Linked DNA regions of Homo sapiens: region 1 is linked to region 2. Evidence: fine-mapped expression QTL. A gene starts in region 2. The other region holds a variant in brackets. All regions are shown on one strand. Distances are from middle to middle.

Evidence for each region.
Region 1: its variant is fine-mapped to the expression of OSBP2 in whole blood (TOPMed, PIP above 0.99).

What each region holds. Positions count from the first base shown.
Region 1 is chr22:30,867,514-30,871,513 of GRCh38, forward strand. It overlaps OSBP2 (oxysterol binding protein 2), which reads left to right. Exons shown (of 14, transcript NM_030758.4): 3 at 2,916-3,169. Among named protein-coding and RNA genes, the nearest start is that of MORC2-AS1, 53 kb to the right of the region's middle. RefSeq lists enhancers at 506-1,042, 1,043-1,578. The variant C/T (reference allele first, on the strand shown) is at 2,351.
Region 2 is chr22:30,692,567-30,697,014 of GRCh38, forward strand. OSBP2 (oxysterol binding protein 2) reads left to right here and starts at 2,308. Exons shown (of 14, transcript NM_030758.4): 1 at 2,308-2,987. The coding sequence starts at 2,344. RefSeq lists silencers at 1,981-2,060, 2,445-2,494.

The sequences.
Region 1 (4,000 bases), 170 kb after region 2:
TTCTCCTGATCTCTCTGTCCCTTTGAGGGGACCTCTCCCTGCCTGTCTCTGCAGAACAGACTGTGCTCATGGGTAATCATTGGCCCAAGTGCCTTCTCATCCTGCCCCAACAACACGGCCAGTGACTTGAGGCCAGAACAAGCATGTCCCTGTGTCCCTGGGGACCTGAATTTGGACCTTAAGGGCTGCTTACTAAGGTGTACTCTTGAATAACAAGTTATACAGAAATGTGGCTACCTGCTTCCACCTGCCACACAGAAGGATGCTAACATGCTTACAGTTAGACTCACTGTACCTCTCACCAGCTCTTGCTTACAGAGCAGGGGTCACATTTGGGCTGACCCGCATCTGCATTGGGCATACCCCCTCAAGGCCCTCCCCGTGTTGAGCCGGGGGCCATTCTGATGGACAGGGGGCTGGCCGTTCTGGTTATTAGATGTACTGAACCTGGAAGATGACGTGTGCCTCAGGGACAGGTGGTAAGAGCACAGGCTCTAAAGCCAGAGACCTGGCTACTCAGGAATTTCCTCACCTCATGGCCCTGGGCAATTTCAATGTACCTTTCCGTCCCCAGATCTACCTCACGGGGTCTTCGCAGGCATTAACTGAGGCAGCGCCTCACCCACAGCCTGGCACCCGGAAAGGTGTGGTACACATCAGCCGTTAGAGCCTTTCTAAGGCTGATCCAGAGAAAGGGAGGCTTGTGAGCAGACAGAGCTGGACTCAGATCCCAACCCTGCCCCTCAATAGCTGGGCACTAAGCTGGTGGCTTGGCCTCTCAGAACCTGCATTTTCTTGCCTGCAGGGAGGGAAGAATAGCCACTGTCTACTGACCTCTACCGTGAGGCCCAGAGCAACAGCTTACGGAGCCAGTGGCCCAGACCCTGGCCCAGCCCGTGTGGCCTCCAGACGTCTGGGGGCCGCAGTTGGGCTTCTGAGTGCAGACACGCTGTGGCCTCTCAATGGCCTTGCCAGGGTAGGGACTGTCCCATCCCCAGGCAATAGATGAGGAAATTGAGGCTCTGAGAGGTGAAGCCATGCTCAGGCCGCCTGGCTGGCCACTGTCTTCCTTCTGGGCTGCTGGGGCCTCCATGAGAGGGGCAGGCGGTCATTTGAATAACAAGTTATTGTCATTTGGGGGCTGCAGTTGTGATGGGAGGCTCCCTGCCTCCTGGCTGGATGCTGACCCAAGCCCCTGTGGCCAGAGGGGGACAGGGTATGCCGTGGGCACCCTCCTCAGCTCCCCTTGGCTTGGGCCCCATGCAGCTGGCTGGCCTGACCCTGCCATGGACACCACGTGCACTCGGAACAGTGACTCAGCCATGTCCACCCCCGTGTACCTTGCCTGCCGTGGGAAGAAACGTTCTCTCACAGTATGCATTATTTTTCAAAAAAAGTCTTATATCTTGGGTTACAGATTTTCTTCATCTAAAAATAGTTTTTAGCTGATTATTTCTAAACAAGGCATTTCAGAAACCCCTTGGCAGTTACAGGCTCTGGGACTCACTGGGTGGTGTCAGCCTCTTGGTGTCCTGTGCCATTGTTAAACAGCAGCCTGGCCCTAGGCCAGCTGCCTCCTGCCCCACCTGCTGTGGTGCGCCACCCCCCAGAGACGCCCACAGCCCCATAACCCCAGATGCAGGCTGGGCTGGCAGGAAAGGGGCCCTGGGCAGCTGCGTGAGAGAGAGGTAAGAGGGGGCGTGGGAGCTGGCAGAGGGCACAGCCTGCCTCTCTCATGGAGGCCTCAGCAGCCCGGAAGGAAGAGGGTGGCCAGCCAGGCAGTGTGGGTATGACTTCACCTCTCAGAGCCTCGATTTCCTCATCTGTCACCTGGGGATGGTCCAGTCCCTACCCTGCAAGGCCATTGAGGGGCCACAGCGTGTCTGCACACAGAAGGCATTCTATCAGTGAGAATGGCTGTGTTCCTGCAGGGAGATCGGTGAAGGGGAGCCTCAACTGTGACATTGGGCCTTTTGGCAGACTTTGTTTTTGTTTGTTTGTTGTTGTGTTTTGGGTGTTTTTGTTTTGTTTTGTTTTTTGAAACAAGGTCTCATTCTGTTACACATGCTGGAGTGCAGTGGCACGATCATGGCTCACTACAGCCTTCACCTCCCTGGGCTCAGGTGATCCTCCCACCTCAGCCTCCTGGGTAGCTGGGACCATCAGCATATGCCACTATGCCCGGCTAATTTTTCTATTTTTTGTAGAAGACAGACTTTTGTCATGTTGCCCAGGCTCTTTTGGCAGAGTTTGGACAGAAGGTGGCATTGGGCTGGCCCTCAAAGGGGTGGGTGGGGCAGGACCTCTGGTGGGGGCAGATATGAGAAGGTTCCATGCAGTGGGGACATGG[C/T]GGGAAAGGCCCCAAACAGGAGCGCTCAGGCCTTTGCAGGGAACAGGGGACAGATTGGTGTGGCTGGGGGATGGGCATGAGCAGAGAGCAAAGTGAGGTTGACTGGACGGGGGTGATTGGCTTGGGGTAGGCCTGCGATGCTGAGAAAGGAGCCCAGGCTCCATTCTGGGGGCCTCTGTGCCCAGAGAGCAGTCTCCACCTCTCCACCCAGCAGAGCCCATCCTTCCCTGCACACCACAATGTAGGGAGCTGGCGCCCTGCATGCAGGTGGGTGCCTGTAGGCCTGCCGCCTCCAAAGCCCAGTCCCGGCCCTGCCATTCAATCTGGGCTCTCTTTACAGTCCTTCCCACTGACTCAGGTGGGCCCTTGCCCACCCCACCCTGGGAAGGCTGGGCCAGGATGGGGCAGGCACCTCACCCCGGCCAGGAACAGGAACGGGCACCATCTCGGGGACTGATGTTTTTTGAATGGCGCTATCCACCCTGCCCTGCTCGGCCTGGCTGTGCAGGCCTCTTGGTACCACGTCTGTTCGTAATGACCGTAACAACTCTATTTTCTTCCACAGATGACTCTGGGGACGACGACGAGGCTACCACCCCAGCCGACAAGAGCGAGCTGCACCACACCCTGAAGAATCTTTCCCTGAAGTTAGATGACCTCAGCACGTGCAATGACCTCATCGCCAAGCACGGCGCTGCACTCCAGCGCTCCCTGACAGAGCTGGACGGCCTCAAGATCCCATCTGAGAGTGGGGAGAAGCTGAAGGTGGTGAATGAGCGGGCCACCCTCTTCCGCATCACATCCAATGCTATGATCAACGTGAGTACCCACCCCCACCGCCCTGGCACGGGGCTCCCTGGCTCCAGCCCCGGGGTCCCTCGGTGGGTGACCAGGGTCAGCTTGAAGGGTCAGCGTTCCATTTCCTGCGGTTCCACGGTGTTTCCCAAAGCCAGCGCCCCCCAGCTAGCTTCCGAGTTCTTAAATCATCTCCTTCACTCGGCCGTCGTTGGGCAAGGACATTCTTCCTAATTGTCTGGAGGAAACGAGTTGGTTGTGGACTCTGGTGCAGTCTGCAGTTATTTACTTCATGCCTCGATAAGGAAGGTCGGGGCCCCAAGTTAAGTAGCTAGCCCAGCAGGTCAGTTCTGCCCACACAGTAGGGACACAGCTGCCACACTGGCCCTCGGTGGCTGCTACTCCTCCTCCCTGGGTTCACTCCCCAGATGCAGTGGGAGCAGACGCTGTGCACAACAAGGGGAGGGTGTGGTGGGGGGCTGCAGTCGAGGGCTCCCTGAGCTAGAAGGGCCTCAGAGCTGAGCCTGCCGAGGTCGTGCCAACCTGATGGTAGACAAAGCAGGTAACCGCAGTTGTAAACTAAGCAGCCCCGCCACAGGAGTCAGCCGCTCACCCTGGCTCTGGAAGCCACACGGCTAGGACTGGGAGCCAGGAGGGTGTCTCGATGGTGGTAGGAGGATAGTGCTTGGCCCTGCTTCCCTCTTTCTGTCTGGGGAGTGTTCCCCAGAAGTGTGCGTGCTCCTCCAGGCCTCCACCCTCCAGACACAGGTCTGACTGCAACAGCCTCCTCCCAGGACAGTCCCCCAGGGCGGCACATCTGGGCCAGGGGTGCAGTTGTAGGAGCTTGGGGTGGCC
Region 2 (4,448 bases):
ATTGCATCACTGCACTCCAGACTAGGTGACAGAGTAAGACACTGTCTCAAGAAAAGAAAAAGAAAAAAAAAAAAAAAGCATGTTCTTGGATTCCACCTCTGACTTACTGGGGATGGAGAAGTGAATTTCTTTTTCTTTTTTTTACTAAGATGGAGTCTCTCACTGTCGCCCGTGCTGGAGTGCAATGTTGCGATCTCGGCTCACTGCAACCTCTGCCTCCTGGGTTCACGCAATTCTCTTGCCTTGGCCTCCCGAGTAGCTGGGATTACAGGCACACACCACCACACCCGGCTAATTTTTTTAATTTTTAGTAGAGACAGGGTTTCATTATGTTGGCCAGACTGGTCTCCTGACCTCGTGATCTGCCTGCCTCGGCCTCCCAAGGTGCTGGGATTACAGGCATGAGCCACCGTGCCCAGCTCTGGAAAAGTGTGTTTCTAATAAACCTCCCTGGGGTGATTTTAACAATTATCATCATTATTTTGAATCGGTGAAACATACACACAGTGAAACATACACAGTAAAACATACAAAAGGTTCAAAGTGTGAGTGAAAAGCAAGCATTCCACCTCATTTCTCAGTTGTCCAGTTCTGTCCCCCACTACACCCCAGAGGCAATCACTTTTCCTTGGGGGGACTCACCATGCTGAAGTTTGAGGGTCACCGTCATACATATGAGATAGACCAAGATGGGGGGCTCTCTGCACTCCAGAGCTCACAGCAAAATTGCAGGTAAGACCACCATTCAAAGACAAGTGCCTGAGGAAGGGGTCTCAAAGTCACCAGCAAAGATGCCAGCGGCTCCTGCTCAGTGCATGTCTGCACCTCCTATTTCTAGGACCTTCCAATCTGCTTCCTTCTGGGGACCACTTCACGTAGGAAGCAGTCCCTACACAGGTTATCTTGTCACAAGCAAAGATCAGGAATGGATAGGTGGGTAAGGGGAGAGTAAGACGTGATGGTGAGCTAAGAGGAGTCTGCAGAGAGGTCTAAGCTTGAAAAGTCTGGACAGAAACCCAATGTTCAGTCTTTCCATTTGTATTTCTGATTATTTGTAGTAACCATCAACTTTCGTCATTTGGATAGATTCTTAAGAAAAAAAAAAAATCACTGATGGCTGGGCACAGTGGCTCACGCCTGTAATCCTAGCACTTTGGGAGGCCGAGGCGGGAGGATCCTGGCCTGAGGTCAGGAGTTCAAGACCAGCCTGACCAACATGGTGAAACCCCGTTTCTACTAAAAATACAAAATTTAGCTGGGCATGGTGCGGGCCGTGGAATTCCAGCTACTAGGGAGGCCAAGGCAGGAGAATCGCTTGAACCTGGGAAGCGGAGGCTGCAGTGAACCAAGATCACGCCACTGCATTCCAGCCTGGGCTACCGAGTGAGACTCAGTCTCAAAAAGGAAAAAAAAAAAAAGCGGAAAAAAAAATTCGCTGATGTTTTAACCATTCTGGGGTCACAGCCTCCTTTGTTATGGACCTACTCTGGAAAAATGCACAGACAGGTAAACCTCTGCGGAAGCCTCACAGACTGCCAGCCTACCCAGGGATCCCGGGAGGTCCAAGTTCAGAATCCCACTTTGAGATGTTTCTTGTACTAAAACGCTTGGTTTACAAAAAGTCTTCCCCTATTTGTTTAGAGAACCCGAACGATGTCGTCACTGGCAGCGAAGCGCCTTGGCATGAACCGTAGGCCAGCTGGCTCAGGAGGTGGAGGCGGTGAGGCGGCCACTTGGGGCCACCGCTTCTGGCGGCCGCAGGAGCGACCCACAGACAGGTAATGGCTGCCATGGGGGGCGGGGCGTCGTCTTTAGCCTTTAGCGCCCCTGTGCTTCGTGCGCATTTCGTGGCCTCTGGGTGCCGTACCTGCTTCCCACCCGGCTTTCCTGGGTGGCGGAGAGCGAACCCACCCCAGCCTGGGTTGGGGGAGGGGGCGTCGGCGCAGGGTCCCGTGGGCAGAGCTGCGCTGGGAGCTGGCGGGCTCCGCATTCATCATTGTTCCTCCAGCGCCTGGCACGGCTGGGCCGAAGCAGAGACCGTGGCCTGAAGCGCGCCATCCCCTTCGGAGTTGACCGACCACCAAGCTCTTCCGCCCACAGGTGTTGTCAGAGCTCCTTCCACCGGCCGGACCTAGGAAGGACCCAGGGTCCAAACATGGCCCGAGGCTGGCCGAGAGCACAACAGCCGGCGGGCGCTGACGGGCACGGAGCGCACGGGACCGCGGAGGAACCCGCGCGCGCCCCCGCCTCGCGCCGCGCGCACGTGACTGCGCCCCCGGCCCCGCCCCCGGCCTGCCCCCCGCCCCCACTGGCCGCTCGGCCGCGCGCGGGTCGGCCGGCTCTATGGGGAAAGCGGCGGCTCCGAGCCGAGGCGGCGGCTGTGGCGGCCGCTCCCGCGGGCTCTCGTCGCTGTTCACGGTTGTCCCCTGCCTGTCGTGCCACACGGCGGCGCCGGGCATGAGCGCTTCCACGTCCGGCTCCGGGCCGGAGCCCAAGCCCCAGCCCCAGCCCGTGCCCGAACCGGAGCGGGGACCGCTGTCAGAACAGGTGTCGGAGGCAGTTTCGGAGGCAGTGCCAAGATCGGAACCTGTGTCCGAGACGACGTCTGAGCCGGAGCCAGGGGCTGGGCAGCCATCGGAACTGCTGCAGGGGTCGCGGCCGGGGTCAGAGTCAAGCTCAGGTGTAGGGGCTGGGCCCTTCACTAAGGCCGCATCGGAGCCGCTCTCCCGGGCGGTGGGGAGCGCGACCTTTCTCAGACCCGAGTCAGGATCGCTGCCAGCGTTAAAGCCCCTGCCTCTTCTGCGACCAGGACAGGCGAAGACTCCTCTTGGGGTTCCAATGTCGGGGACTGGCACGACCTCCAGTGCCCCACTGGCCTTACTGCCTCTGGACAGCTTCGAGGGCTGGCTTCTCAAGTGGACCAACTATCTGAAGGGCTACCAGCGCCGCTGGTTCGTGCTGGGCAATGGTTTGCTCTCTTACTACAGGTATGGAAGCGCCAGGGTGGGACATGGGGGTTGGAGGGTGGTGATGCTGCAGGGATGGTGATGGAGGGCCTCCATGGTTGGCGGACACTGCCACTAGTCTAGAGATGTTTAGGGGCATGCATTCCAGCAGGCCAAGTCACGCTTCTGGCCCGCCGCCAAGGGCCGGGGGCCCTGACCTCTGGCAAGGGTGAATGTGATCTGCGGACATGACCTCTGGCAAGCTTGGGTTTTTGGGCAAGTGGGGAGGTGGAGTAAGGGAGTGATCTGGGGCCTCAGTTCCCTTCTGCTTGGCAGTTGTGGGGCTTGGGGCAGCTAGCTAGAGTCAGCCCCTCAAAGTCCTTGCCCTTTCTGGTTCGGGAGCTAACATCATTGTGTGTTTGGGATTGAGGGAGAGAGTCACCTTGTTCAGTCCTTAGGACCCACACTCTTAGGAAGGGCTGCTTATTCTTCCCGCCTGGGGCAGTTACTCCCACCTTTCCTGATGCCTCTGGTTGCCAGGCCTTGGGCTGGGCACCACAGACTCACAGATGTATTGGACACGGTTCTTGGCCTTCAGGAGTCCATCTTGGCATTTTGCGGAGAGCTAGGAAGTGTTTTGCTGCCCTCCTTTCTTATTCCAGACCCAGCACGGGATTCAAAATTAAAGTCCAGTGGTGAGAGAGCTAACACTGTCTTCCCACTGAAACTGGTTGAAAGGAGGTTACTGAAGCCTCCCTTTGCTTTCTTACTGGCTCTTCCCTGGGTCTGCTTCCTGGGGATGGTTGGTTTAAGCCTTGAGAACTCAGATCAGTCTATGCCAGTGGTTCTCAAACCTGAGTGTGCATCAGCATTCCCTGAAGAGCTTGTTGGAACACAAAGTGCTGGGCCTCCCCAATGAATTTCTGTTACAGTGGGCCTAGGGGAAGGGCCTGAGATTCGGATTTTCTAATAACTTCCCAGGCGTGGCTGGTGATGCTGGTCCAGGACCACACTCTGAGAAGCACTGTTTCATTGCTGCACACAAAAGGACCTTGACTTGCTGTTGCTGAAATTCAGGTCACTTCACTCACTTCATTCAGCCAACAGTATCCCTTCAAGTCACCCACTACAGGGTTTTGTTTTTTGTTGTTTTTGTTTTTGAGACGGAGTATTGCTCTGTCGCCCAGGCTGGAGTGCAGTGGTGCAATCTTGGCTCACTGCAACCTCCGCCCCCCAGGTTCAAGCAATTCTTCTGCCTCAGCCTCCTGAGTAGTTGGGATTACAGGCGCCCGTCACCATGCCCGGCTAATTTTTTTTTTGTATTTTTAGTAGAGATGGGGTTTCACCATGTTGCCCAGGCTGGTTTCGAACTCCTGACCTCAGGTGATTCGCCTGCCTCGGCCTCCCAAAGTGTTAGGATTACAGGCATGAGCCACCACACCGGCCTCTCCTGTCTTACAAATGAGGAGTTCTGAGGTTTGATGGGGAGACACAGAGCCCATT